Regions from separate parts of the Homo sapiens genome. Here region 2 is linked to region 1. Evidence: fine-mapped expression QTL. A gene starts in region 1. The other region holds a variant in brackets. All regions are shown on one strand. Distances are from middle to middle.

The links.
Region 2: its variant is fine-mapped to the expression of RIMBP2 in B cells (Fairfax 2012, PIP 0.92).

Annotation. Positions count from the first base shown.
Region 1 is chr12:130,707,657-130,723,521 of GRCh38, forward strand. RIMBP2 (RIMS binding protein 2) reads right to left here and starts at 8,643. Exons shown (of 23, transcript NM_001393629.1): 1 at 8,566-8,643.
Region 2 is chr12:130,482,975-130,498,839 of GRCh38, forward strand. The region is part of intron 4 of RIMBP2 (RIMS binding protein 2); the gene reads right to left. Among named protein-coding and RNA genes, the nearest start is that of PIWIL1, 150 kb to the left of the region's middle. The variant G/A (reference allele first, on the strand shown) is at 9,084.

The DNA.
Region 1 (15,865 bases):
GCCCTCTGGCTGCTGTGTGAGAGTGACTTGCAGGCAGAGGTGGACACAGGAGGCCTGGGGGCGCTGAGGCAGTGTGGCCCAGGGACAAGACCAGGGGTCTCTGGCCAAGGGGACCGAGGCGGCCCGAGCAAGAAGAGCTCAGAATCAGGATGTGAAGGGAAAGTGGCGGATATTAGTGGATCACATGTAGGCAACAGCTAGATAGAGGCTGGGAAGAGGACATGTTTGGCAAAGCAAATGCTTAGCCAAGAAATGGGGGGATTGAGAGAGAGGGAGAGAGAGAGAGACTATACGCATTACACATGACTATATTTGCAATAATCTCAGGCCTTTTAGAAAGTACTGATGCCTGTGGGTAAACATGTGGTCCAGCCACACAGTGGAATATTATTCAGCCATAAAAAGAGATGACGCTCTGACACACACCACAACACGGGTGAACCTTGAGGATGCTGTGCTGAGGGAAAGAAGCCGGCCACAGAGGACCATGTGTAGTATGATTCTGTTCACGTAAGATGTCCACGGCGGGACATCTATAGAGACAGCAGATTCGCAGTTGCCAGGGCTGGGAGGAGAGGAGAGAGGAGACTGGTTGCTTAATGGCAATTTCTTTTTGAGGTGATGAAAATGTTCTAACATTGATGACAGTGATGGTTGCACAACTCTGAATATACTGACAACCCCTGACTTGTACTTTAGATGGATGAATTGGATGGTAGGTAAGTTATATCTCAGTAAAGCAGTCTTAAAGCTGGGCATGGTGGCTCGTGCCTATAATCTCAGCACTTCAGGAGGCTGAGGCAGGAGGATCGCTTGAGTCCAGGAGTTTGAGACCAGCCTGGGCAACATAGCAAGACCCTGTCTCTACAAAATATAAAAAATTAGCCAGGCATGGTGACACGCGCCTGCAGTCCCAGATACAAAGGATGCTGAGGTGGGAGGATCACCTCAGCCTGTAGGTCGAGGCTGCAGTGAACCGGGATTATGCCACTGCACTCCAGCCTGGGCGACACAGTGAGACCCTGTCTCAAAAAAACAAATTAGTGAAATAAAGCTGCTTTGAAAATACTGTTATACCTGCGCCCCAGCTCACTGCACCTTCTCTAAGAGGCTCGCGTGGGCCCTGGACACAGGCGTGTTTCAGAGCTCCCTGGGACTGCATCTGACCCAGAACCGGCTCCGCCCCAGCTTCTCTGGGATCTCACAGGTCCTGCAGCGCTGTAGTCCCAACCCAGCTTCGCGGTCAGGCAGCCCGGGTTTGAAACTGGGCCCATCTCTCCCCAGCTGTGTGATCTTCAGAGAGCCCCTCCATCTCTCAAAGACTATTGTCTCATCTGTAAAATGGGTCTACATGAGCAACAGGGCCTGCCGCAGAAGGGCTGTGTCATGCATGTAACCGAGGAAGGCACCCAGCAACGTGCCGGCAACAGCAGTCCGATGCATTGCTGCATTTGAGCTGGAAAAGCTGTTTACACAACTTCCCATCTTTAATTCTCACGATCCAGAAGCCACGATGCAGGAGGCAGTCACCAGGGCTGGTGGGCTTGGGGACAAGCAGGAAGGAAGCTGGGGAACTGTCTGGACAGAGGCATGGCCCTCCCGGGGCCCCAACTGCCATTCGCTGCATCCACCCTTCCCACAGAGACAATTATTGAGCCCCAGCCAGGTCTCAGCCACTCGCTGGGCACTGGGGACTCAGCCACAGGCTGAAGACGCAGAACCCACACCACAGCTGGGGCTGGGGCAGGTCTCTGGGCGTGACGCCCGACAGCAGAGCTCTGGCACCCGCAGCCTGCGGGGCAGCTCCAGGCTAAGGAGTCAACACGCAGCTCGAGCCCTTGGCCCTTGAACATGGAGCGCTTTACAGACCTGGAGCTGAGTCAAGGCACGTTTCCCAAGATTTTGGGGCTCCCCTCTCAGGGAGAGGGAAGGAAGAGTCGGAAACAAAGCTGCCTGTTGCCCCCGTCCCAATATCTCCGTCCAAGGAGGTACAGGGGCAGCGTGATGGGGTGTGTTCCTGCTCTTGGAAACCACGTCGGTAATAAGCATGAAGAATGCCTTGAGGAAACCCCCCCCCTTCCCACCCAACCCAGCGGCCCGTTCCTGACATTCCCATCGCGGACACACACTGGGTGTGGCACCAGGAGCGTTTAATCAGAGGAACCTGTACCAACGCACCCCCAGGCCCCCTCAGGAGGCCCCTGCTGCCAAAATGGCCAAATGGGCTTTCTTTTTGGTAGCACTGGGCAGGAGGGAGGCAGGGGAAGGAGCGCGGTAAGAGGCATAGGAGGGGCAAGGAGGACCTTCCACCCAAAGGGACACCATGACCAACTCCCCATGGATGGAAATGACAAAAAGTACACCACTGGCCCCCTGGTTTCCGGGTATCCCTGGGAGCTCACGGGTGGACACCGAGGGTCTCCAGGAGAGGGGTTGGCTCTGCAGCCCCTGTGGTCCCAGCTGCTCCAAAAACACCCAAGGAGCAATTTCTGCACATACCTATGAGAATCAAAGCCACCGAGCAGCTCGCAGATCCATTCCTCCCTCTGCCCTCGGGGCCTGAACCTCTCTCCCAGGTGTCTGCACCTCTGGCTCCTTCTCAGGGTCCTGTCTCAGCTTCAACGCCACCTCCTCCCTGAGACCCTCCCAGATCATCCAGGTGCGGCCCCTGACATCAGCCATTGGAACCCTCTGCTGGGCACTCCATCAGGGCAGCTGTCTCTGGTGTAGTGATTATTCATTCACTTGCCCGTTGTCTTACACATGCACACACACACATACACGCAGGCGCACACACACACATACACACACACACGTACACACACACATGTGTGCTCCCCATGAGGGCAGCACCCTCCTCTAGCTTGTTCACTGCTCACCTAAAATGTGAGTCAGTATTTAGCAGGTGCTTAAAGGTTTGCTGAATGAATAGGTCATGCCCTGCCTTCCTGGGTCCCACACAGATAGAGAAGTGGCAGGTGCTGCACCTCCCCCGCCCCAGGCTCAGCACCAACAGGAAGGACCTGTCCACACAGCTAGGCCAAGGAGAGAGCCCCCCTCATCTCCCACACTGGGTCTCTCCAGCAAGTGCTTATCCAGCACCTACTAATGACAGACCACAAAACACCAACAAATGAGAATATCCCAAATGGACGTCTTCAGGCCTCTCCCTGCTCTACCTGCTCCTCCACAAGCCCCACTGCTCCCAATCCTCACAGGCCCCGCACGTCACACGTGGGGTCCCATGGAGCCCTGACAGCCACCTCCCTTTCTCGTGTAGGTGAGCATTAAGAAGAGGCTATCTGACCAGGCACAGTGGCTCATGCCTGTAATCCTAGCATTTTGGGAGGCCAAGGTGGGCAAATCGCCTGAGGTCAGGAGTTCAAGACCAGCCTGGTCAACATGGCGTAATCCCATCTCTATTAAAAATACAAAACTTAGCCGGGCGTGGTAGCCCACGCCTGTAATCCTAGCTACTCAGGAGGCTGAGGCAGGAGAATCGCTTGAGCCCAGGAGGCGGAGGCTGCAGTGAGCTGAGATCATGACACTGCATTCCAGCCTGGGTGACAGAGCAAGACTCTGTCTCAAAAGAAAAAAAAAGAAGCTATCCAGCCTCTCACAAATCCAGAGAAGCCCCAATTTCCTCCATTTTCTGAGGTTCCTTGTCCAGGGAAAAATTAAGAAATGTCTATTACCCTTTTCACGTTTTGCTGGATTCCATTTTCTAATTTACTAATACTTGACTTAGAATGTGGTGTCTGTGACCATGAGAGTTTGGCCAGCACATGTTCTTCCTTCTGATGGCCTCACTGGGGTTTTGTATCAAGATTATTCTGGGCTTTTAAAATGAGTGTGCTTTGTCTTTTTTCTCCATTTTTTGAAGATGCTATTTGGAGTGATTTACTTAGGACGTCATTTGGACTTAAAGTTTATATTGTGTGAAGGTTTCTCATTACAGATGCATTTGCTTCTCACACATATGAAAATAACCACAAAAAAGTTAAAATAGATTTAGATTAAATGTTACTTTTCAGGGACCCACCTCATAAATGAATACTTCTAACCCCACAAACCCTAGTACAGTGTGACTGGCTTGTTCAAAGATAAATGCAGTCACGCCTTGCTTAACAAGGATGCGTTCGGAGAAATGCCTCATTAGGTGATTTCGTCACTGAGCGCACCTCACACACAGGTACACTGCACACACGCCCGGGCCGCACAGCCTCCTCCACGCCCTGGCTCGATGGGCAAGCCCATTGCTTCCGGTTTCACAGCTGTGCAGCCCGTGACTGTACTGAGTACTGTAGGCCACTGCCACACAATGGTGAGTACTTCTGCATCTAATCATAGAAGAGAGGCAGCGGAAGTAAGATCTAAAAGATAAAGCATGGTGCACCTGTATAGGGCGCTTAGCATGAATGGAGCTTGCGGGACTGGAAGTGACTCTGGGTGGGTGAGTGAGTGAGTGAGGAGTGGACGTGAGGGCCCAGGCATTCCTGTACGTGTCTGTAGACCCTACAGAGGCTGCACGTTTAGACTACGCTAAATTTATACAAAAATATTCTTCTTTCTTCCATAACTGCCCTCAGCTTACTTCGTTGCCTTATACATTTCTTAATTTTTTACCTTTTGGACTCTTTTGTAATAATACTTAGCTTAAAACACACATTGTACAGCTGTACAAAAATAATTTCTTTCTTTATATCCTCATCTATTTGCTTTTCCCTATTTGATTTTTTTGTTTGTTTGCTTTTTAAACTTTGCTGTTAAAAGCTAAGACATAAACACACACGTTCACCTAGGCCTCCCCGGGGCCAGCATCATCACATCACCGCCTTCCACCTGCACGTCCTGTCCCGCTGGGAGGTCTCCAGGGGAATAACACAAGGTGTGCCGTCGCCTCCCACGATGGCCATGCCTGCTGTCGGATCCCTCCTGAAGGACCTGCCGGAGGCTGTTCCACAGCTCACTTTTGTTTAATAAGTAGAAACAATACACTCTAAAATCATGATAAAAGTTACAGTAAATCCATAAGCCAGTAACATAGTCATTTATTATCATCGAGCATCATGTCCATGCATGACTGTATGTGCTGGACGTTCACACTCCAGGCAGCACAGTGGGTTCACCCACACCATCGTCACTAAACACGTGAGACTAAAGCTTCAAGCTGAGCAGCTACGACAGCCACACTGGGATGGGGATCTTTCAGGTCTGTTCTAATCGCACAGCCACCGCAGTACGCATGGTCTTCACTGATGGAAATGTCCTTCTTATGCAGGGCGTCATCTGGGAGATTTTCTTCAAGGAAAGATGGATCCACACAGGAGCGTGGCCCAGTGGTGGACACAAGCAGGGGTGAGTCAGAGAGAGAGACTGAGAGAGGGAGAGGAGGAATGAGGGAGGGAGGGAGACTGAGAGAAAAGGAAAGAAAAAACAAAGAGGGAGAGAAAAGGAGAGAAAGAGAGGGAAGAAGGGGACAGAGACTGAAAGAAACGGAATAAAAGAGTGAGAGAAGAAGGAAGGAAGGAAAGAAGGAAGGAAGGAAGGAAGATAGGAAGGAAGGAAGGAAGGAAGGAAGGAAGGAAGGAAGGAAGGAAGGAAGGAAGGAAGGAAGGACTGAGGAGTATGGTTCAGTGAAACCTTTGCACACAAGGGTGGTGGCACCAGCATCACCAACAAGAGATGCAGGTGTCCTCAGCTGGTTGCCCTTTGCACACAAGGGTGGTGGCACCAGCATCACCAACAAGAGATGCAGGTGTCCTCAGCTGGTTGCAAGCCTCCTCCCACACCATAGGGGATCAGACAGCTTTTCAAATGGGTGAAAGTCAAAAGAGAAACTGAGGACATAAGCCATGCACTACCACTATCTACACGGGATGAGGTAAGTGGAGAACAGAGTTTTCTGGAATCAGCAGCTCTGCTTGATCAACAAGAGACCAGCACAGCCGATCCGGTTCTCCCCCGGGTTCCCAGCACCACGCGGATTCCAAACCTTGGGGCAGAAGTGGGAAACACTGAGACGTTCAGCCGGCAAGTCTCCGCCCACCTGGAACAGATGCTCATTGCCGTGCCCTAGGGAGACTCCCGGACACAAAGGAAGCTCCCGGGTCAGGCCCTCTGGTCCCTGAGGTTTGGCACTTGCGGGTCTAGACCAACCTATGAGGCGTGCACTCAGCTTCATGTATGACCTCAGCCAAAGGCCAACAGAGAGCTGGCAACATGCCCCAGAGATGCGTAAAGCGCCTCCTGGTCACGCTGTATTCAAGGATCCTCAAAGTGGGGTCCCTGGATGCCTCCACCTCCCCTGGGACTGCGTGGGAATGCGGATTCCCGGCTCCTCCCCAGACCTGCTGGATCAGAGGTTCTGAGATTTGTAGCCCCTTAACCCACCCGCCAGGATGCCAGCGCTCACCAACGTGTGAGAATCGCTGCTCCAATTAAAACTTCAACCAGACTCCAAAAATACAAACGTGGCAGGGGGTGGATTTGAAATGGAAAGCGAAGCAAGCTCAGGAAAGAGCCAGCTCCTGCCTCTCCTCCCGCCCCCTGAGCACATGCTGGTCTCTTCCAGGCGCCAACAGTGCATGGGGCCAAAGAGATGAAACTGAAAGCTACAGTGTAGGGCCCACCGCTTGTCTTTTCATCTTCATGGCCAGGAGCTCTCAGCCCGGCTGCACGCTGGCCTCACCTGGGAGGCTTCTCCACCACCCACGCCCACCCCCGGACTCTGCAGGCTTGGGGTTCTCTGCCGGGCTTGCAGCATGGGGGAGGCCGGCTGCTATGCCCCGGGGAGGGCTGCGTGGCGCCTGCCTCCTGCGTGGGGGGCGGCCCCCATAGCGCCAGCATCTTCCTGTCTCCCGGGCACGTGGGCAGTGCCACCCTCTCCCTGACCCAGTTTGCCATCCTCTAGGAAGGGGCACGGGGGAATAGCCGCTGCCAGCGCCTTCCCTGAAATAACCTGGAAGGGCTCCACTCTGGGCCCCAGGCGGCTGCCATATGGCCACGGCACAGCCCTCGACCCCAGGCACGCCCCACCACCCCCCACTGCAGAAGGGGTGCCCGCCGGCCTTCCCCTCACACCGTGCCCCCAGGGAACCTCCGGAGCCGGTCAGACCCTGCCCATCCCACTGGGAGCTTGGGATCATGTCTCACAGGACAAGCCAAGACCCCACAGCCCAGCGGGGGATGAGTCTGAAGCTGATTCCCGGACAGCCCAGCAAGGCTGGGAGGGAGCCAGGGAGGGGCCATGTGCGTGGGGGAGGTGGTGATTTTTTAGAGCCTTCCCCCACTGTTCCCCTTAGAAACCGGGTGAGTGAGCCTGCACGCCAGCTCCCCTCCCCTGCCCACTCCTGCTCAGAGCCCAGCAGCCTGGCCTGCCGCAGGGCCCAGAGCCCGGACACCTCCTCTTCCCACCGATCTTCCATTTTCAGAGGGAGCCGCTCTCCCTCCTCTCAGGCCTGCTCCATCTGTGACATTTCCCTTCCCTGGACGAAGTGGGGTTTTCACCCTTGTGAGCAGAGTCTCCTTCAGGGCTCCTCCGTGAGAGAAATATGGGGCTGGACAGGGTCCCCTTCCCTCCCTCCTCACTCACCCTAAGAACCTCCAGGGACCCAGAGGCCACGCAGGCACGGAGCCAGCACCCCCGCCTCCCCCGGGGCCAGTGACCAGGCCGGGAGGTGAAGCAGTCCTCCCTCCCTCCGGCCAGCCGCCACCCCGACCTCAGCCAGCGTGCGCTCCCCGGGGACAGGAGGGAGGCTGCTTCCACCGAGGCCTCTGCTGACAGATGTCCGGGCCCCCACCTGGACCTACCCAGACCTAAGCTCCTGGGCGGGTGGTCCCGTACGCGCTGCCTTTCCCGGTGAAATACGGTTTCCACTGGGAGAGTCTGCCCCCGGCCAGCAGCCCGCGCACACTGCTCACACAGGCACACGCATGCACGCACACACTCTGCCGGGGAACATCTGTTTTGACAAACACATTATTCAAGTCAGTCCATGGGACGTGAATTGACAGATTCCTGGGCGCAGCCTGCGGGCTTTGTGCATTTGCACCTGAGCCGAGCTGGGGACTCTGATGTGTTTGTCCCACGTCCCCTTCCCCCCCTCCACCCCGCCCCCAAGAAGACAAGTCCAGGCCCTGAGCCGCTGCTGTCTGAGAAGCCTGGGGCGCACTCCCCAGGCGAGCGGGGCCGTGTCCATCGGGTGCCAAACTTTGCCTGGAGGGGCCTTTCTTAAAAGCCTGGGGTGGGGGCCATGACAGAGCCACAGCACCCCTGCAGCTGACACCCGGCACCCAGGAAGAAGCCCGTCAGCCCTTCCCTTCCGAGACGATCCTGAATTCCAAGCAGCACCGACATGCCAGCAGGGCGAGCCGCTGCTCCCCGCACCCAGCGCCCCCGGACCCCACGCTGAAGGGCATTCTCCATCCGCTGCAAGATAAACTTTGTCTGGGCAAAGAGTTTCCGGCTAACCCCCTGTGATCAACGCCGCTGCAGCTCGGGTGCAGAAAGGCGAGGGGAGACGGGAAGCTATTTTTAGGAGAAAAAAATAAATCTCAGCCTACCTTTAGAAGCGAGCTGTGCCAAGGCTCCGGAGGTTCACCTCGGAGACAACTGCAGTGTACTGTGTCAGATTACAAACTGGGGGCGAGACGGAGGGAGGGAGGAGGGGGAGAGGGAGAGAAGGAGGGAGGGAGGAGGGGGAGAGGGAGAGAGGGAGGGAGGGAGCAGCAGAGGGAGAGACAGGGAGCGAGAGGCAGGCAGAGGCGGCGCCCAGTCAACATTGCAGGGCATTGGTGTGTCTGCACTGCTTGCATTCAGCTAGACATGATTCATTAGTTTTCTGCAGGCAGGCAAGCAGGTCGAGAGGGAGAGAGGGAGGGAGAGAGAGGGAGAGAGAGAGGATCATCCGCCATGCAGCAGTAACCAGAGCCTCTGAAACGTCAGTGTTTGAACGCACACACACACACACACAAATACACATGCACACACACGTGCGCATACACACACCAAGATGGCTATACCCCTCACTGCCAGTTTCTTTCACAGAGCTGTGGTGAAAAGCTCGGACAGAGATGGAGGCAAACAGCTCTCAGCCATGCGGGGCTTGGGGTTGGTGCTTTTCTCTCCATCCCTGGGAAAACAGCACAGGATCTTCCCTGCAGGAGGCCGGGGGTCTCCTGCAACCGACAGGCAACCGATCAGCACATCAAAGTAAAAGCTGCCCTGGGCTCTACTCCAGGAAGCTCAGAAACTCAAGCGCCCTCAGAATTAAGTGATGAAGAGGAGCGACCCAAGCTGCCTGGGTCTTTGCTCTCCTGTCCGGCTCCCCTCCCCACCCCAAGCCTCCAGTGGCCCCGCAGATTCCCCCTTCCCACAGAACTTCAGGTGGTGGCACAGATATACCCGCTACCTAGCAACCGGGTGGTGCAGGAGGGAAAAAACCCTGGGAAACACGCACGGACTTCACACACTTGCTTCCTTCCCTGGGGTAAAAATCCCATGGCTTGTTACTGAAAGGTGCTGAATAAGATAGCTCATGCGGAGGAAAGCCCCTTTGGTATTTTGGGCTCCACATACCCTAATTGAGGCTCTGAGGGCTCCTACTAATGATGGCCCTGTGCAGGGACAAGACTCGAGTGTAGGACACGAGAATTCCAAGGAAGGGCTCACCACGGGTCCTTTGTACAAAAAGGAAGGACTTGTCCCGAGGTGCTTTCTGTTGCTTCTCCAATTAAGGCTCACTTTACAAGTTTTTTAAAAAATGGGCTCCTTAGTAAAACCAACACATCCTACCATCACCGTGGTTTTGCTTGTGATCTTAAAGGAATCGCAAAGGTCTCAAACCTAGACAGCCAGAGGAAACCTCTTCCCAAGACAACTTTTTCAACACTGTGGCAGACGGGTCCAGCGAGTTTTCCCAGTCAGGACTCATTTTGGCCTCCCGGATAGGCTTCTGAATTATATGCCTCTGAATTTGGCTGCAAGACTGGAGGCTTCTTTCAAGCCCCGTGTAGAGTGGCCCCAGCCTCTGTGCATGGAACAAAGAGATACGTGCTGTATCCAGGAGTAGGTGGCAAACCACAGATGATTCCTTTTCACCCTGCAGCAGAGTTATCAGGTCACAGAAACTACAAGACTGCAGAAAATCGTGGAAGGGACTGGTTACCAGATACTCGTACACACATGTTCACAGCTGCGCTGCTCTCAACAGCCAAAGGGTAGAAATGACACAAGTGCCCATCAATGGATGAATGGGGAAACAAAATGTGGCATATCCATACAATGCAATATTATTCAGCCAGGAAAAAGGAATGGAGTATGTGATTCCTGCTACCACATGGATGGACCTTGAGAGCACCATGCTGGGGAAAGAAGCCAGACACAAAGCCCATCTATCGTATGAGCCCATTTTTATGAAATATCCAAAATAGGCGAATTCATAGAGACAGAAAGGAGACTGGTGGTTGCTGAGGGCTAGGAGGAGAGGAGATGAGGAGTGACTCCTTACTGGAGTGGGGTTTCCTTTTGGGGTGGTGAGAACACATTGGAACAAGAGAGAGGTGGCAGTTGCACAAGACTGTGAATGTATTAAATGCCGCTGAATTGTTTACTTTAAAATGGTTAATTTTATGTGATGTGAACTTTACCTCCATAAAAACATATGAAAAGACCGTAGAAAGTGCCTGTGAATTGGGCCCCACTGACCCAGTCTGCCCCTTCCTGACTCCATCTGTGTGGCCTGGAGCAGGTCAGTCTTTTCCCACATCTGTAAAACGATCGTGTCTGCTTATCACATAATGTCTACTTCACGGGGCTCTTCTAGGGGACAAATGAAATATTTGACAGAAGGAAATAAAGCTATTCCCCCTTAGAAAGGATTCAATCTTTTAAAAGGTCATTCAGTGGCATGAAAATGACTCTCCACCTTTGTTTTCTCAGCAGAGAGGAAATTAATTGTTAAGGAATGCCATGGAACATTTAGGCCAAAAAGCCAAGGTTCGAAAACAAATAAGCTGCAAAAAATGTTTCCATTCAAAGATGCTGGGTTCTCCCCATACAGGGCCATTGCTGTCTGCACCAGCCCCACTGAGTCTCTGTCATGGCTGCACTGTCGTCTGCAGTATCCCATGTGTGTGGGGCTGCATGTCATGGGTCTCGGCGTGAGGAGCCCACTTTTTCAGCTGGACAACTTGAGACCAAAGAGTTGACTGTAGCTGCCAAGAGACACATGGTCAAATCATAGAAAGAATGCAGGGCCAGGCACAGTGGCTCATGCCTGTAATCCTAGCACTTTGGGAGGCCAGAGTGGGAGGATCACTTGAGCCTCGTAGTTCAAGACCAGCCTGGACAACGTAGTGAGACCCCATCTCTACAAAAAATACAAAACTTAGCTGGGCATGGTAGTGCACGGCTGTGGTCCCAGCTACTCAGGAGGCTGAGGTGGGAGGATGGCTTGAGCCCAGGGGGGTCAAGGCTGCAATGAGCTATGATTGCTCCACTGCACCCCAGCCTGGGGGACAGAGTGAGACTCTGCCTCAAAAAAAAAAAAAAAGAGAAAAGAAAAAAAGGAAAGAAAAGAAAAATAATACAGGATTCCATTTCTTGGTGTCATGTTCTAACTTCACAAAAATTAGGTAAATTTTGTGCATAAAATACTGAAAAAAATGTAACAAACCAGAGACTTTCATAGGTAACTAACAATCCAGATGAAGCCATTCTGGGCCTGTGAAGAATGAGGATGTATTCAACCCAGCAGGAAGGAGCTAGCCAGTTCTGAAAAATGAGCTGCTGTGGTGGGGACCAGTTTCGGTGATGGAATCAAAAGTGCTGACCCCCTCCAGCGCTTGTCATAGGCAACCTGCTAGCTCTGGACTGCACACAGGCCACACAAAGGCATTGCTACTCATCGGGTCTATTAGGCCGTTAAAGACTCCTGTGAATAAGGCACCATTTGTTTTATCTGGTCCTGGATGGAACGAGTGTTTGCCAGATGTCAGGAAGTGTGAGATGCAAAGCTGCATAATTGCCATTCACAGTTTTCCAGCCCTCCGTATGGAGACAGCACAACTAGACAGTTTCCACTTGGAACTGCTGTCTGAGAAAATGCCAGTCATTTTGTTTGCAACGTAGTTCTGAAGCTTCAGCATTAAAGTGGAATCTCCTGTCGCTGGACAGCTAATAATAGGTCTGTGCTGACACTGACCATCAGCACCTCTGCGGGCCCGAGCTTCCACAAAGCACAGCAAGTTTTCTATGAGGCCAATTCCAAGGCCGGTGGGTAAGTGCAGCCCCCTAAATCCTTTCAAGTAGCCTTTGAAGCTGGGTGTTCACCATAAGTGCAGCACTCAGCTAGGAACATCTCTCGGAAAAACCTGCCCTGTTTACAAGTAGTAGGGTAGTCAGAAAGGTCTAAAAACTAGGCAGTATTGGAGATGACATGATGATCTACCTGGAAACCCAGATGAACCAATCACAGAAAAACTGTTACAAATAAGAATTGAATAGGAGAGGATAGAATAGGTCTGGCGTGGTGGCTTATACCTGTAATCCCAACACTTTGGGAGGCTGAGACGGGAGGACCACTTGAGCTCTGGAATTTGAGACCAGCCTGGGCAACATGGTAAAAGCCTGTCTCTATGAAAAATACAAAAAATTAGCCAGGTGTGATGCCTCATGTCTGTAGTCCCAGCTACTCGGGGGCTGAGGTGGGAGGATCACCTGAGCCCAGGAGGTGAAGGTCGCAGTGAGCCATGATCACACCACTGCACTCCAGCCTGGGTGACAGAGCAAGACCCTGTCTCAAAAAAAAAAAAAAAAAAGGAGAGCTCTAGATATATTCCATAATTGAATAGAATAGTGTATTATTTTAGGTTCCCAGCAAATATATATTTGTATATTATTGCATATTATTTTGGAGGAACAAAAATAATATACAAAAGTCAATAGGTTTCCTATATAAAAGCAATAATCAGTTAGGAAGTATAATGGAAGGGGAAAAAAATTCCATTTATAATAGCATACAAAAAGAAAGGCATGCCTAGAAATGTGTAAGATATATATGAAGAAAACTGAGGAAAAAATAAAAGAAAAATGGAGCAAAAAGAAAAGCCAACCCCACACTTGGAGAGGGTCCTTAAATTTTATAAAATTCTCCTGAAATCAACCTTAACATTTAATATGATTACAATCAACATAAAGCCGAGATTTTTTTCCAGACCTCTGGAAGCTGATTCTAAACTTAGTATGGAAATATAAGCACAAAAGTATAACCCAGACATTTTATTGAAGGCAAGAAAAAGTAATGAAAGAAAACTAGTTTTACCAGACATTAAAATATATTATAAATATATAAATAAAATTGTTTTGTCATGGTACATGAACAGACAGACCCATAGAACAAACTGGGTGGTCCATAAACAAATCCAATTACATATGAGAATTTAATATATGATAAAATAGTATTTCTAATCAATAAGAAAATATAGAATACTCAATAAATAATTGTCAGAATACAGGATAATTAAGGGAAAAAGTTCTTACACATAAGTTAATTCCAGATAAATCAAGTATTCAAACATATAAAAGAAAAATTAGACATTCTAGAAAACTTATGAATTTTTTTCATTATTGTCAAATGAAGAAGGACTTTCTAAGAAAACTCAGGAACAATAAAAGGAAATGCTGATTAAATCTGATTACGTGGAAATGTAAACTTCTGCACAGTGGGAAAATGCCACAAATAAAACCAAAAGATTTGCTACAACTGAGATAACATATTTGCAACACATATTTCAGATTCAGTTGTGGGTCCAATTTTGTGGGGCCTGGAGTTTATATAATGTGGAGAGCCCTAGTTAAGAAAAATAAAACACAAAGAACACCAATACAAAATACACAAATGATCATTTATCGAGAATAAGAAAATAAATCACAACAAATTCCAGATGTTAAAATGTTGACAAATCCCACAAATATCACAAAATCCAGAAAAATAGCATATATTTATTGTAATTAACTGCCTAAGACTCTACTATAATATCAATTTTATTGATATATGATAAATGTACATAATTTAGGGGTACATGTGCTAATTTGATGCATTCATGTAAGTATAAAAATAAAATCAGGGTAATTGGGCTACCTATCACCTTATAATATTTGTATAATATTTGTTTTTAACACTATTTGTGTAATCTTTGATTACTTCTCCAGATGACAATGATTTTATAATTTTGTTTTCTTTTGAGAGAACAGAAAGAAAACTCTTTCCTCTAGCATGATGATCAAAATTGGCTTTTTAAAGTTATTATTGAAGGCTTAAATGTCTTTTTTAGGCAGCTAGAGAGAAAGGGCAGGTCACCCACAAAGGGAACCCCATCAGGCTAACAGTGGACCTCTCAGCTGAAGCCCTACAAGCCACAAGAGATTGGGGGCCTATATTTAACATTCTTAAAGAAAAAAAAATCTTCAACCAAGATTTTCATATCCAACCAAACTAAGCTTCCTAAGCAAAGGAGAAATAAGATCCTCTTCAGATAAGCAGATGTTGAGGGAATTTACCACCAGACCTGCCTTATGAGAGACCTTGAAAAGGGCACTAAATATAGAAAGGAAAGACCACTACCAGCTGATACAAAAACACACTTAAACACACAGACCAGTGTTGCTATAAAGCAACCACACACAAGCCAGCATAATAAGTAGCTAACAACACAATGACAGGATTGAATCCACACATATCAATACTAACCTTGAACGTAAATGGGCCACATGCCCCATCTAAAAGGCACAGAATGGCAAGTTGTATAAAAAAGCAAGACTCGATGGTATGCTGTCTTCAAGAGACCCATCTCACACATAATGACACCCATAGGCTCAAAATAAAGGGATGGAGGAAAATCTACCAAGCAAATTAAAAACAGAAAAAAAAGCAATGGTTGCAATCCTAATTTCAGAAAAACCTACTTCAAACCAACAAAGATCAAAAAAGGCAACAGTACATAATGGTAAAGTGTTTAATTCAACAAGAAGACCTAACTATCCTAAGAACACATGCACCCAACACAGGAGCACCCAGATCCATAAAGCAAGTTCTTAGAGACCTACAAAGAGACATAGACTGCCATACAATAATAGTAGAAGACTTCAACACTCTACTGACAGTATTAGACAGACCATCAAGGCAGAAAATTAACAAAGATATTCCGGACCTGAACTCAACATTGGACCAAATGGATCTGATAGACCTCTACAGAACTCTCCACCCCAAAACAACAGAATATACATTATTCTTATTGCCACATGGCATATATCAATGACATAACTAGACATAAAACAATCTTCAACAAATTCAAAAGAACTGAAGTCACACCAAACACACTCTGAAGCCACATCACAATAAAAATAGAAGTCAAGACTAAAAAAATTGCTCAAAACCATGCAATTACATGGAAATTTTAAAAACGTGCTCCTGAATGACTTTTGGGTAAATAATAAAATTAGGGCAGAAATCAAGAAGTTATTTTTGAAACTAATGCAAACAAACATAAACATACCAGAATGTTGGGGACACAGCTAATGCAGTGTTAAGAGGGAAATTCATAGCACTAAAAGTATTCATAACATCAAAAAGTTAGAAAAATCTCAAATTAACAACCTAACATCACAACTGAAAGAGTTAGAGAAACAAGAACAAATCAACCCCAAAGCTAGCAGAAGATAAGAAATAACAAAAATCAGAGCTGAACTGAAGGAAATCAAGACACACACACACACACATACACAAATCAAAACATCAGCTAATCCAGGAGTTGGTTTTTTGAAAAAATAAGTAAGGTAGATAGGCCAATAGCTAGACTAATA
Region 2 (15,865 bases), 220 kb before region 1:
CATCCAATTACACCCATTGTGTGTGTACATGTGTCAGATTCTGCAGGGGAGGGGGCAGACCTCATCCAAATACACCCACTGTGTGTGTACATGTGTCAGATTCTGCAGGGGAGGGGGCACACCTCATCCAAATACACCCATTGTGTGTGTACATGTGTCAGATTCTGCAGGGGAGGGGGCAGACCTCATCCAAATACACCCACTGTGTGTGTACATGTGTCAGATTCTGCAGGGGAGGGGGCAGACCTCATCCAAATACACCCACTGTGTGTGTACATGTGTCAGATTCTGCAGGGGAGGGGGCAGACCTCATCCAAATACGCCGATTGTGTGTGTACACGGGTCAGCAGTCCTAAGCACCATGGGGTCAGGCGGTCCTAAGTCCACAAATGCACGCACCTACTATGCAGCCACAAAAATTGTAAAAAATTAAAAATAAATAAATAAAAGGGGAGAAACAGAAAAAATAAACTGCTAAAAATATACTTTTACTTTTTATAAACAAAGGGGATGGGAGCTGCAGTCCTGCTGGGGGCTGGCCTGTCGGCTGAGAAGGCCAAGGAAGCCCCCCACCAAGATGGTGCTAAACAAAGGCTCACACCAGAGACAGAGCCCCACGCGGCTGTGGGTGGAAGGCGGGATACACAGTGCCCAGAGCCCCCACCCTCACCTACACACAGTGCCCAGAGCCCCCGTCCCCACCTAGACACAGTGCCCGGAGCCCCCATCCCTCACCTACACACAGTGCCCAGAGCCCCCGTCCCCACCTAGACACAGTGCCCGGAGCCCCCATCCCTCACCTACACACAGTGCCCGGAGCCCCCGTCCCCACCTAGATACGGTGCCCGGAGCCCCGACCCTCACCTACACACGGTGCCCGGAGCCCCCACCCTCACCTACACACAGTGCCCGGAGCCCCCGTCCCCACCTAGACACGGTGCCCGGAGCCCCTGTCCCCGCCTAGATGTGTCCCTGAGCCATGCCACTAACAGGGGCTGCGAGGGCTTCCGCGGCTCCTGGAAAGGCCCCAGAAGTTCCCCCAGGCACTGGCTTGCTGGCATGGACAATGTCCCATGGGAAGGATAGACTGGAGGCGAAACATCTCTCCAGAGTCTGCCGGCGACTGTCACTTAGGTGTCCTTGGCCGGAAGGAGCCCGATGCCCCCCGAAGTGGACCCCTGGCCCCATGTCGCATCCCAGCTGAAAGCCCCTCGGTGGGGAGTAAAGCGGCATGCTGTCACAGGGCCACCTGACTGCCTCTTGCCTCCTGATGCCGCTGCCACCACCATCTGCCTGCCTCTCATGCCCTGCTGTAACACCCTGGCTTTCGCGCTGTTTCTAAAGAGCAGACCAGTGCCCGCCTCTGGACCTTCACACGTGTTGCTCTCCCTGCTAGCCTGACTCTCACGTTCCAGCCTTTGCCCAGATGCCACTTCGCACTGAAGCCTGGTGGCCGCCCGGCCCCTCCTGGATACACCATGTTCTCCACCTGCCTTATTTTCCTCCTGAGCATCCTCATCCCCAGTGCACTGGCCGGCTCCCTTGCCTGCTATCTGCTCCTTCCCCTGGAACATGAGCAGGCACCTTGCCCCACTGTGTCCCTGTCCCCACAATGGGTCACTCGGCACAGATGCCAAATAATCAAACTGCCGCCTTCATGGCCTCTTGGAGCTCAGTCCCACTGCTGTCCCCACCACCCCCTTCTCCAGCCACATGGGCCTCCTCCCAGCCCCTGGAGCTCTCCACGCTGCCCACATCAGGGGCTGGCAGGGAAGGTTGGGGGAAAAGTGCTTCCAGCATTTCAGGCCAGCAAAAGCCATTAAAGAGCCTGAACACCTGGGCTCAAATCCCAGCTCTGATACTGGCCCGCTGTGTGGTCTTAGAGTAGTTACTTAACCTCTCTGTTCTCCATGTTCTTCTTTTGGATTAATTTTTCAACACTATTCTTTTTCAATTGGTTAGTGATTAGTGAAATAACTAATGTTGATTATTAATTAACACCCACTTCATAGAGGTGTTTTGAATTTTCCTTGGCATCTATTAAGTTCTCTGTGTTATGTTTTAGTCCCAAGAGGAGAAAACCCTTTCCCACTGGACGTGTGTAGCCCTGTGTGATGTCACTTAAACACCAGGTACAGGGTGGGAGGGAGGGACTCATGAGGCAACCAGGGCTGCACCAACAGGATGATGGACAGCTACCGCCGCATTGGTAAAATGACGGTGAGAAATCGGAATGTGGCTGCTGTCATTTATTAAGCACCTACTATATGCAGGGCACTATGCTTGCCCAGGCACTGTGTCATTTGAGGCTGAGGGTTGGGTGCTGTGGTCACTGCATCCCAGCAGAGCAACAGACTCAGGGAAGCTGAGCAAGGGCTAAAAGCCACAGCTGGAACATGGCCGATGAGAATGTCAGAACTCACAGCCAGTCTGCTCCCGGCCACTGCCCCACTTCTGGGTTGAGATGACTTACACCAGCCACTGCCATCTTGGAGCACTACGGGGGCCAGGGCAGAGAAGCAGCTTTCGACTTCCTCGCGGCCCACCTGGCCTGGGTGGCCGATTGTGCAGCTGCTTAATTCTGCCATTTTGGCTTAATTCTGGCTAATTTTGTGCTTCTCTTTATTTTGGAAGGGGGCACTGCCAAAGGCAGACTGTATCATCTTTATTTAGTTCTGGGAAGGAAGTTGTTAGCGAGAGGAGGGTGCCACCTTCCCTACCAGGACTCGCTAGGTAGATTCACCAGGCACCGAAACAGCTCCGGGCGTGGTCCTGCGGCCTCAGAGTCACTGAGGATAAAGGGGTGGCGGATGCTATGCTGGGCTCTTGCTTCGGGGTGCCAGTGAGATGAGGGTTTATAGATCAGATGGATGGAAACAAGTACAGGGAAGAAGTCTTTGCATTTCTACGGTTAATGAACCAAGTCCGTACAAAGCAGCTGTCAGAAAGGCGTGAGCGGGAGAAGCACTCGGCCCTCGAAGACAGCCTCAGTTTCATCACAGATGCCATGGCTGGGAGGACAAGGTTTGCTGGGGCTTGTTTTGGCTTCAGCATCTATCTCTCCAAATCTTACCTGTTTCTGCAAAGCCCTCATCCCCCTCCAGCCACTGCCCATGTATCTGCCTCCCATCTCACACGCTCTTCCAGCCCTTCCAGTCAGCCTCCCTCCTGTCACTCGGCTGAGATTCTCCCACTAAGGCAGCCGAGGAGTCCCTGCAGCCCGAACCCATGGCCACTTTCGTGCCCTGACTGGACCAAATCCCTCAGCAGCACCCGACACCAGGGCTGCTCCTCCTGGACATGCCCTGGACTCTGGCCCCCGTGGGGCGCGCTGACCTGGTCTCTCCCCCTGACCTCTGCAATGACCTCCCGCTGATCTCTAAATCCTGGAGGGGCCACGGCTCTATTTATACCATTCCTTAGGTGATCTTAGCCAGCTTTGAGGTTTTAATTGCCACATAATTCCAAATGAACCCTTCATCCCCGTCCCCCGCCCCCCCGCCACTCATACCCAACTGCCTACTCATTATCCCCACATGGATGTACAGGAGGAAGCTCAAATTTAGCCTGTCCGAAATAGAATTCTTGATTTTCTTCCTCAAACAAGTTCCCTCCCCAAGCTGTGCCATCTCGGCCAAGGACACCATCATCCCCTCAGCTCCTCCAGATGCAAAGCTGACAGTCATTCTTGACTTCCTGCCCCCTTTCCCGCCTTGTTCAACATCCAGATCTTTGAGAAAAAAAAAAACCTCCCAATTTAAAAAAATGTGCACCCAAACTCCCCCCACCCATGTCTGCCGTTCTCTCCTGTGTCCAACGCTGCCACCTCATCTCTCCCCTAGACTATGGTAGACTACGGCAGAAGAGCCCTTTCTGCCCCGAGACAGCTCCTCCTCTCCCCTGGACCATAACCAGCTCCTCAGAGCCCTTTCTGCCCCGAGACAGCTCCTCCAGAGCCACTGGCTGCACCAGAGATTGCCCCACAGCCATTCTCCTTCAAGAGCACAAAGGCTGCCAACTGCACCGGGAACAAAATCCAGACTCCTGGCTGCAGCCAACAGGCTCCTCTGTGATCCAGCCTCTTCTCTGCCCTCACCTCTCACCTCTGCCCCTTCCTCACTGTGCTTTTGCCACACTGGCTTCGCTCAGTTCCATGATCACGTCAAGGTCATCCCCAACTCCAGGTCTTAGCGAGTGCCATTCCTGCTGTCCGACATGCTTGTCCCTGCATCACCACGTGGCCAGCCCTTCACGGCGTGATGGGGTTTAGGATGTGTTCCCTCCAAACCTCAGGTTGAAATGTGACCCCTGTGTTGGAGGTGGGGCCTGGTGGGAGGTGTCTGGGTCACGGGGGCATAGCCCTCATGAATAGCTTGGTGCCCTCCCCATAGCGATAAGTGAGTTCTTGCTCTGAGTTCACTCGAGAGCTGGTTGTTTAAGGGAGCCTGGCTCCTCCTCCCTGTCTCTTGCTACCTTTCTCACCATGTGATGCACCTGCTCCCACTTTGCCTTCTGCCATGTTTGGAAGCTTCCTGAGGCCTCACCAGAAGCTGAGCAGATGCTGGTGCCATGCTTGTACAGCCTGCAGAACTGTGAGATAAATTCGCTTCTTTTCTTTACAAAATACCCAGTCTCAGGTATTTCTTTATAACAACACAAAACGGACAAAGACATGGCAAGTGTCCTGACCAGTGACCAGAGATTATTTTATTTACGTGTTTATTCTATGTCATCCTTTCCATCCCACTCCCTACCCTTGTCCATGAGAACCACAGGATCACAGGACTTGTTTCCCTGTCTACTGGTGCACCCCCGGCCCAGAACAGTCTCTGACACATGGTGAGGCAGAATCAATGACAGCAAAGGTGAGGCCTCTCGCCTAAAACATCTGTCCCACGCCCCCAGCCCACACTCCCCTCTCCATCCCTCACAGCCTCCCACATGACTCTGCAGCAATGCTGTAACCTGCTTGGTACCGTTCTAATTCCATGTAATTCTCACTTTCTCAACTGGACTAGAAATGGCTCCATTTCCGTGTGTGCACTCCACAGGCAACAGGAGTCTAATTAACATTTTCTAAGTGGAATTAAAGCAATGATTTTGAGTGGAGGATTCATCCTGTGGCTGTCTAGAAACTAGACTTTAACACTTGAGGAGCCTAGAGAAGATTGGATCCTCACTACCAAAGATTCCACATTTCACCAAACCCACAGTCAAAACTGTGAACCAGAGACATAAGCTGGTTCTCCTGGAGGCCATCACACTGGCGGAGTTAGTCACGCAGCTATAATAAAACATCTCTCGGAGATGGGCTTTGAGACTGATGAGGGTAGAGTGAAGTGGATGGCGAAAAAAAAGTTTAAGCCAAAAATAGGAGAGATATTGGCTGCAAAGGCTGAAATTCGTGGTGTTAGGTGGATGGTAGGGGAAAAGATAGCTCAGTCAGGGGGTGGTGGGGGCCGTAAGTTTAATATTAGTGAGGTCTACGAACCAGCCAAAAAAAAGAGAAATGGACAAGGCTCACAAACACACGGACATGCTAAATATATCCATCCATCCTGGCATGAGGACATACTGATTCATTCTGCACAGCGTTACTTTTCTAAATGTAGCCAGTGTGCATGTCTCTGTTGAAACATCTATAGAAAAATCAGTGTTGCAAGGCTGAGATATTAATCAATGTTTCTTTCTATCACTAACCCTCTATTTCTCCTCCATTCCCCTCCCACTTCCCATCCTGAGGGCTCCATTCCATGCTCACTGCCTCAGGGAGGATGAGAGATGGGTCAGGGAAGAGCAGAAACTGGGGACTCCCCTGGGCTTTGGTCTGCAGAGATAAGGGGAATCAAGAAGACAGCATACAGAGGGGTTACTGTGAGAAACTGAGACTAGATTTCCCTTCTAATCTGCAGAAATATATTGCTTCACCAGAGGCAGACAAATTAGCTGAGAAGAACCGATGCATGTATAGACACTGGTGGATGGGCTCTTGGCTCTGCTTTCTGGAAAGTTCCAGAGAGCTGACTCCTACAGAATTCACGGCTAGCATGGGGAGTTGAGAAAATGGAGCTTAAACAGCCTGGCAGGGATTTCTGAACGACCCTGGGATAGCTAAGAGCCCACGTGAATGCATACAACTAAACAATTAAATTCTTTCATGTCTTATATTTTACAATGTCTTCAAGTAACTTTTACCCTTGTCTCTGAAATAATGGAAACAACTGGTAGACGGTGGCTTGTCTACTTTTACAGCCTACATATAAGCAATACGCATCGGATAGAATGGTGGGAATCTGTGTGTGTACGCCTGGATGAGGGCAGGATGGAATCCCACAACATCTTGGCTTTGGGTCACCCTGCACCCCAGCCTAGATCTCACCTTGGTGTGCCAATCAACTGCCTCAGGTCTCTCAGATCTACTCTCTCTCCTTCTCTTGTTTTGCTCTGTATCAGAAAGAGCTACACTTCCCAGACGCCCTCGCCCTCTGCTTCTGGGTGGTCAGTCAACAGGCAGCATCGGCGGGAGGGAAGCCAGGGATTTCTACCCCTCTCTCTGCCTCTCGAGCTGTCTCCTGTAGAGGCTCCGTCTCCTGTAGAGGCTCCATCTCCTGTCTCTAACCCACGGTCTCTGCTCCTGACTCTGAGATCATCATCACCCCCACTGTCCCTTCAGCCTTAGAGGTGATGCCAGGTTCACAATGCAGCCATCTGGCTTCTTAGTTCTTCCACCCTGTGTGTCACAATCCCCTGTATTAATGTCCCTCCATTTGAAATACCTTGGCTGGCTCCTGCTTTTTGACTGAAGTCTGACCGGTAGACTGAAGGAAAAGGATGAAGCCAACTCCAAATTGATGACACATTTCTATCACTCTTTCAAAATGCGTGTCTTAAAAGTGAATTAAGCACTTTGGGAGGCCAAGGAGGGTGGATCACAAGGTCAGGAGATCGAGACCATCCTGGCCAACATGGTGAAACCCCGTCTCTACTAAAATACAAAAAATTAGCCAGGCATGGTGGCAGGCACCTGTAGTTCCAGCTATTCGGGAGGCTGAGGCAAGAGAATCGCTTGAACCCGGGAGGCGGAGGTTGCAGTGAGCCGAGACTGCACCACTGCACTCCAGCCTGGGTGACAGAGCGAGACTCTGTCTCAAAAAAAAAAAAAAAAAAAGATAAAAAAGAAAAGTGAATTAAGTAATGTTGAGGGGGTTGTTCTGTTTCTTTCACTTGAGTTGTTGCAACTGGACTCAAACCTGCTTCACAGACTTACTGTGACAATTCTAAGTTAAAAAAAAAACTCACGGAAATGTTGATTTTGCTGACCACCTACAAAGCAGAAAATAAATCTGTCCAGGAAAATGTACAATCTGATAATGTTTTTGTTTACTTATCTACAATTTAGCTTGGATTTTTTACTATCCCTTAGTTTGCTTGAAATTTTCCTATTAAAAAATAAATGGTTTTGATGCTTCTTCCCAACTAGGAAAGCTTGTTCTGGTCCCAGCTGTCAGACAATCCCGGGCTGATAGCTACTTTAATGAATCAGCAGCAGAAGTATAAATCGGGGTACAGGGAGATGGGGGTGAAGATAGAGGTGCTTGGTTTACCTCAAGAGTTATAACATCACGGGGCAAAGGCAGGTTCGGTAAGTTCCAGCTGCCATTTCTCTCCAAGGGCCAGGAAACAACATCTTAAGATAAAAGTCACTGGCCATAAACAACCTTATTCAAGGAAAATAATCTCGTCTGCAGGGCACCTGTGGTGTGAAGGCTGAGACCTGTGAGTTCAGCAACAGAATCGGCCAAGTGGGGGCTGCAGTAAACCCCTCGGCTTACCGGCCAGTCCACAGGACTAAAAGAGAGGCCAAATGCCAACTCACCCCGGAACTCAGCCACACCATAAAAGAGGGAGATGTGGTCAGAGTTCAGTGGGAGGGTGGGGAGCGAAGTGGGAAGCGGTCTACACAGCAGCTCCCGAGCCCCCTGTGTGTAGCAACAATCAAAACCCACGTTAGTGTTTATCACAGATCACCACCTACAAATGGTGGGAAAATGGTGTTCTTATTCCGGTATGCACATTGCTGGCACAGTTTTCCCAGAGAACCTGCCTGAGACCCAGCCCAGCTCCAGACATCAGCCTCCACATGCTCACCTAAACACATCTGAGGATTACTAAGTTCTAGAAGTACTGTTATGCTAAGTACTGAACACACATCACCCATTTAATCGGCACAACAACGCTTGAAGCAGGTGATATTTTTATTCCCATTTACAGAGAAGGAAACCAAGGCCCAGAGCGGTTAAGCAACGTGTTCAAGTTTGCCCAGCTAGGCCAGGCTCAAGCCAGGATTTGCACCTAGCGAGCCCAGCTCACTCTCCCTCCACTGTCTCTGCTCTCTGCTGTCTAAGAGGCCTCCTCCAGGACCTCTCTCATATTTGCGGGATGTGCTGATGTTTGCTGGGACTCTCTTCAAGGCAGTACACATGAGAACCTTTTCTGCAGTGCCCTGAAGTCACTCCGCCTCCTTCCTTCCAGAGTTCTCAGGCCACCACGCACACTGTTCGTGCCTCTGTCACAGAGCCATCTGCACTTCTGGGGGGCAATCGCACTTTCCTTCTCACAACTTCCACAAGCAGCTAGGAGTCTCTCGGTTCCTGGGAGTGCAAGGGGCCCAAGGATTCCCAAAGGGAGTCTGAAAACCTCGGGTTTCGCCCAGAGACAGAATCCCACCACACCCTGACACCGGGCTTCCGCCTCCCCGCGCAGAGACCTTCCCAGGGCACGTGCTGTCATTCATGGGAAGGCTTCACATCTGAAAAGTACTCAGGATTATGCGCCACGGCCAAAACTGCCTGTCTGAAACGCTCTGCCTGTGGCAGGATTTATTTTTAAAGCAGCGATATTTATAGCTGACTGTCGACATTCACGCCAGCACTTAAGCTGCCTACAAATGTCAGGGTGCCGCTATCCCAGGGAAAAGCTCGGATGTGACACGGAACGAACGAACCTGAAGCAAACTGAATTATCTCCTCAACGTCAGATCAAACGTGGACTTGTCCTGTGCTTGGATGCTGCCTTGCCTGAGC[G/A]AAGAAATTAAGGAAAAACCAATTTCCCCAAATAGGAGCTAACGGTGACACTTTGAATGTCACATTAGTGGGATCTGCTACGCGTGGTAGAAATAATGAAGCATTTATGTACACACGATTTGCTTTCACCCAGCACCTGGCAGAAGGAATGCAAGCACTCACAGAACCCACGTCTTCAAAAGCAAGAAAGACAAGGTCTTTAAAGCTGTTTGTTTTCATGGCATCACGACTGTCTGTCCTAGTCACAGAAGTCACACTCATTAAGAATGAGAATGTGTGTGAAAAACATTCATGTGAATTCAGTGAGGTCTATTTCAGCCCAAGTATTTTAGTTTCTCAAACTGGGAAAAAAAATGGATCCTTAGGAGTTCCTTTGGGGGAAAAAAAAAGAGAGAGAGAGAGAGAAAGATTTTCCTGAGTGTTGATTGGTCTTTGATCCTAAAGCCTCCTTCCTTCTCCTCTGGCCCTGATGAATCCTAGAGATGCAGGGGTGGCAACATTCATCCATGCTGCTTTGGGAGGGTTATTTTTCTCACACACAGTTTCTGTCCTGCCCCAGTGGCTCCCGGCTGTGAGCCCGGGATTTTGGCCAGCCAAGTAGAGGGGATCTTATCAGCTGGACCTGTGTTCAATGCCATTTCCAACACGTACAGGCTGTGTGCCCTGGGGTGAGTTAGGTACCTCTCTGAACCTCAGGTTCCACGTTTATTGAATGGCAACAAAAAATACCGTCCTTCCTAGGTTGTCGCAAGAATGAGATTAAATGTTAGATTCAAAGGGATCTGCACAGAACCAGGTGCGGCAGCTCACGCCTGTAATCCCAGCACTTTGGGAGGCCGAGGCGGGTGGATTGCTTGAGTCCAGAAGTTTGAGACCAGCCTAGGCAATATGGCAAAACCCCATATCTGCTAAAAATACAAAAAATTAGCCAAATGTGGTGGCAAACACCTGTAGTCCCAGCTATTCAGGGGACTGGGGCTCAGGCAGGAGGATGGCTTGGGCGCAGGAGGCGGAGGCTGCAGTGAGCCTAGATAACGCACTGCACTCCAGCCTGGGTGAGAGAGTGAGATCGTAGCTCAAAAAACCAAAACAAAACAAAAAAACAAAGTGACCTGCACAGGAATTAAGTTTCATGTAAATATCACTAAGTTTTATTTAGGTCTGCCACTCGATTTGGCTTCTGTTAGTTCCCTCCCATTTTCATTATTTGATCTCCCCTTTCCTGCCTTCTTTTTGTTTTTTGTTGTTTCTTTTTGTTCGTTTTGTTTTGTTTTTGAGATGGAATCTCGCTCTGTTGCCCAGGCTGGAGTGCAATGGCGTGATCTCGGCTCACTGCAACCTCCACCTCCTGAGTTCAAGCAATTCTCATGCTTCAGCTTCCTGAGTAGCTGGGATTACAGGCGTGTACCACCACGCCTGGTTAATTTTTGTATTTTTAGTAGAGACGGGGTTTCAGCATGTTGGCCAGGCTGGTCTCAAACTCCTGACCTCAGGTGATCTGCCTGCCTCAACCTCCCAAAGTGCTGGGATTCCAGGCGGGAGCCACCATGCCCAGCCTGGTTTTCAATTTTAATGTCTCCATGGAGTGCTGTTCTGTATGTTTTTATGTCACTCCTAGTGGTTGCCCCAGGGAACTCAATATACATATTTAAATTTAAACAATCTACTCAGAATTAAAACTTGCCATTCCAAGTGGAATTCTTACATGCTCCATCTATATACCTGAAACCCCATCACAGTGTTCTACATTTTCGTTGAAGTGTCATTTATGTACATGAAAGAGTCTACCAGGAGAAAAACAGCCTGGTCTAGCCTGTTACATTTACCCGGATATCCGCCCTTTCTGTTTCTCTCCTCTGTCCAGTGTTTCCTGAGCACCAACTACGTCCAGGTGGCCCGACAGGCACTGGAGACACAGTGGACACAAAGCTGAGAGGCCCTGGCTTGTGTGGGGCTGACATCCCAGTGGGAAAGACAAGCGTTGATCGGGTGAGGATATAAAAATGCAAGCTTGTGATGCATGGGTAAACTGAGGCTCACGGAGATGACTCAGCCCCTTGTGAGTACATCCCACACTCTGGGACAGAGCGCTCATTCTGTATCACTGCGCTGGGGACAGGGACAGAGCGGTTCAGAAGGACAGACCCCGCCCTGGCCCTCCTGGAGCCCACTCCACACCCCAGCAAGCATCAGGCCTAGAAGTTGGCACCTCCCCGCCACCACGGTTCTCCCTGCACTGCTCTGCCCCCGCCTCCACAGTCTCACGGTAAGATGGTGGATGCAAACGTGCTTTGAAAGATGCAAAGCACAGTGGCTCATACCTGTAATCCCAGCACTTTAGGAGGCCAAGGCAGGCAGATCACCCGAGGTCAAGAGTTCGAGACCAGCCTGGCCAACATGCTGAAACCCCGTCTCTACTCAAAATACAAAAATTAGCCAGGCATGGTGGCAGGCACCTGTAATCCCAGCTACTCAGGAAGCTGAAGAGGGAGAATCGCTTGAACCCAGGAGGCAGAGTTTGCAGTGAACTGAGATTGCCCCACTGCACTCCAGCCTGGGCAACAGAGTGAAACCCTGTCTCAAAAAAAAAAAAAGAAAGAAAAGAAAAGAAAGAGCAAAGTAGGAGTCAGGTAACCCACGGAGGCCTCCAGGACCCTGCACTCCAGCCCTGTGTGCTGGTTACTCAGGACACACCCTCTTCCCTGCTGTCCAGAGCACTTGGCCTTATGTGGGAAAAGGATGCATTTGTGACCGCTGGGTCACAAAGTACCACAACTGGCACTTCTGCTTAAGACAATGGAAAGTGTCCTCTCACAGCCCTGGAGCACAGAAGGCTGAAATCCAGGTGTCGGCAGGGCCGGATCCTCTCGTGGAACCTCTGAGGGAGAAGCCGCCCCATGCCCCGCTCCAGCTGCTGGCGTGGCCACGATGCTTGGTGATCTTTGACCAGAAGACACCTCACTCCCATCCCCTTGGGTGTCTCTGTGCCTCTTCTTCTTATAAGGACAACAGTCCTTGGGTTTAGGGCCTGCCCTACTCCAAGATGACCTTATATTAATGACATCTGGACAGACTCATTTTCAAATAAGGTCATATTCACAGATACATAGATTTAGGACTTGGGCGTCATTTGGGGGAACACAGCTGGCCCTCTACATGCCCTGAAATGATGAGGGGGGCTGCTTCACTTGCTCCCCATCTGCCTGGATTCATGCCTCTGGACACCTGCCCCAGACCAAGCCATCAGCCACGCTGGTACATGCCCTAGTGGCTCCCGCCTCAGTGCTGCCCGTTGTCTCCTCTTGCCCCTGTGAGATTTCCCCAGGGATGTTGCTTGGTCAGGCCACTGTCATCACGTGGGCCTCAGCTGAAGTGTCACCCCCTAACAGACATGTGCAGGGTGCCCTGCGCTCCCCTCTCCCTCCAGGTCACCCTGGCTCATCACCGTCTTCCTCCGTCTCTGAAATTCTTATCTATTTGCTGGATGACCTGATTTTTTTTCTGAGCTCCTCCCACCCCAGTAGAAGGTAAGTTTCATGAAAACAAAAATAACCTTGGACTTGCTCCTCGTTTTACTCCAAGCATCTGGCATGGTACCTGGCTATCCTTCTGTCTATTCTAGTAGATTCCTTTGAGGGTGTATATCAATGAAATTGCTCACGGTATTAGCAATTCTTGATCACTAACCTCTCCAGCACCAGCCACTATGTTAGATCACTGGGCACATTCTATGCTTTGAACCCTTACATCTAGAAAGGTACTTTATGGCCACTTTAAAGATGAGAGAACACCCCGGTTCTCAGAAATTAGTTAGCTTGATCACACGTAAACAACTAGTTAATCATCAAATTCAAATTTGAACTCAGACTGGTCTAACTAAAAGCCCAAAGTCTTTGAATTAGGTCATGCTACTGAGATCAACGGGAACGTCCCCCTAGGGTGGGTGATGATTCTGCCGCTGACTCATTGGACCTAAACTGTAAAGCATTGTGGACCACGGCAGAGAGTACGTCCGTGCCTGTAGCCATGTGATACGGTTTGGCTGTGCCCCACCCAAATCTCATCTTGAATAGTAACTCCAGTAATTCCCATGTCTTGTGGGAGGGACCTGGTGGGAGATAATTGGATCATGGGGGCGGTGTCCCCCACACTGTTCTGTGGTAGTTAATAAATCTCACAAGATCTGAAGGTTTTATCAGTGGAAACCCCTTTCTCTTGATTCTCATTCCCTTCTCTTCTCTTGCCTGCTCCCACGTGACACATGACTTTCACCTACCACCATGATTGTGAGGCCTCCCCAGCCACATAGAATGGTGAGTCCATTAAACCTCTTTCCTGTATAAATTACCCAGTCTCGAGTATGTCTTTATTAGCAGCATGAAAAAGGACTAAACCACCATCTCACTGTCCTCACTCCGGTCTCAGCAGCCCTGCTGAGCAGCTCTGGGGTAGAGGAGGCTGCGAGGGGTGAGGCTCCATCCACTTCCTGCAGGAGGGATGCTTCTGTCCACGGGAGACCAGCACACAGTGATACCTCATGAAAGGCCACGTTCCCATCACCCTGAGCCCCCTTCTATGTCGGGCCCCCAGCAGCTATGGCGCTGGGCAGGCCCGCTCCCCAGAAAGTGACCACATGATGGTTTCCTGCCTGTGATGGCCTCCTTCAGGCACACCTTTCTCTCACCTGCAGGCCACCCAGAGGAGCCAAGGAGGACCGCACACTTCTCTGCACACTGGGACTGCTGTCCTCTCCCTGAGGAGTGGGACCCTCAAGTTGTTCTGCCCAGGCCATCAGACCATGACTGCCCCGATGTCACTGAGCAGAGTACAGAGAGACTGGGATGTGTATACACTGGGGGCTTAAAACAACAGCAACCCATCCTCTCATGCCCTGGAGGCCGGAAGTCTTCAGTCGAGGTGTGGACAGGGCCATGTACCCTCCGAAAGCTCCAGGGCAGGCTCTTCCCCATCTTGCCAGGCTCCTGGGCGCTCCATGGCTCTGATCTCTGCCTCCATCCACACGTGGCTTCCTCCCTGAGCGTCTGTGTCTCTATCCAAACTCCCCTCTCCTTTCTTTCCAAAGCCTGTCACTGAACGAGGGCCCTCCCTGATGTGCGACCGCACCTTCACCTAGTTACATCTCCAAACACACTATTTCCAAATTAGGCCCCGCGCCCCAGTTCTGGGTGGACATGACTGTGGGGAGGCTGATTGAATCTACCCCTCTGTCCAGAAGCTTCTCACCTGCCTTCTGCTCCCTGGGCTCCGTAATCACTGATTCTGCTCACAGCCTCTGGTGGGTCCACCAGTCCCTGCCTCTAACTGCTTCTAGATTGAGCTCTCTGAATCTAGAAACCTTGTGAGTGTGAAGTTAAACCGTCCTTCCCTGCCAGGACTCTAAAATAAAAGCAGCTGTCGCTCTACCGCATCCGACGAACAGAACTGTCTCACGGGCCATGGGAGAAGGGGCTGGAGAGATGCGTTCTGGCCGTGGCTGTGAGCGAAGCACCACCGGTTGCAGTCCCTTTACCCAGGAGCTGGGGAGAGGCTGAGGACCCAGAATGTCTTGTGTATCAGGCAGTAGAAACTCACATGAAAAACACATGAGGCTTTTTTTGTTTTGTTTTTTTGCAGTGAGTAAAAAAGCCCAATGCGTTTTTTATTTGAATCTGAGAAGCTGGAGAATAAAAAGCATTTTGTTTATTTTATCACAATGCACTCACTTCTGACAGGCACCCTGCTTCAGAGGAGTGCTGGGTGTTTTGATCAGACTCCTGTGCCAGGACCTAAGAGGAGGACTGACTCTGGGTTAAATGCAACAAGGAGTGCGCGGTGGGGAGATCCTTGTCTGACACCAGCCTGGGCTGAGGAGATGCCGGAAATCACCAACTCTCCTGTGTTTATTCCCCTTGGAGAGTCTCTGTCTATTCCAGAAAGGAACTGCAGATTGATCTGTAGATGTGACTTTATACAGTCACCTGTGAGCCCCAGAGAAGCACCTCTGCAGAGAAGCACCCTGACTCCAGGCCTCCTGCTGCTCGGTCATTCTCCATGAAGGCAGCACTGACTCCAGGCCTCCGGCTGCCCCGTCATTCTCCATGAAGGCAGCACTGACTCCAGGCCTCCGGCTGCCCAGTCATTCTCCATGAAGGCAGCACTGACTCCAGGCCTCTGGCTGCTTAGTCATTCTCCATGAAGGCAGCAAGTGTCTGCAGTGCCGGTCGGTTCAGCGAGGCAATCTGTCAACCCCTCACTCATTCATGCGTGCACTTGCTCCGTTACTAATTCATCAATCAATCAGTATTTATCGAGTGTCTACTATATGCCAGATTTTGTGCTGGGCACTAGAACAAAGGCTGTCTTGAGGATGTTACATTTTGGTAGGGAAGACAAATACACAGGCAGACAGTTAAAGCAGACAAGATGAGTGCGCTGAAGAAATGGAACCCAGTGATGTGCAAGTGACCAGCAAGGGGGCCTCTGGTCCTTTAGACCAGGTGGCCACGAAAGCAACATGAAACTGAGACCCAATAAGCCAGGAATCAGAAATACAAAGTGCTGAGGGAAACAGCATTCAAAAAAAAAAAAAAAAAACACTCAGTGCAGGAAATCCGAGCTAGCCTGTGGAGAGGCCACATGAGGAGAGAAATGTCTGGCCTGCCCCCTCTCTTCCAGCCATCCCAGGAGAGGACAACATGCAGGCAAAGAGCCAGCCAAGGCTGCAGATGATTGCAACTTCAGTTGCCATCTGAGCGTAACTACCCAAGTGGAGGCCCCACGTG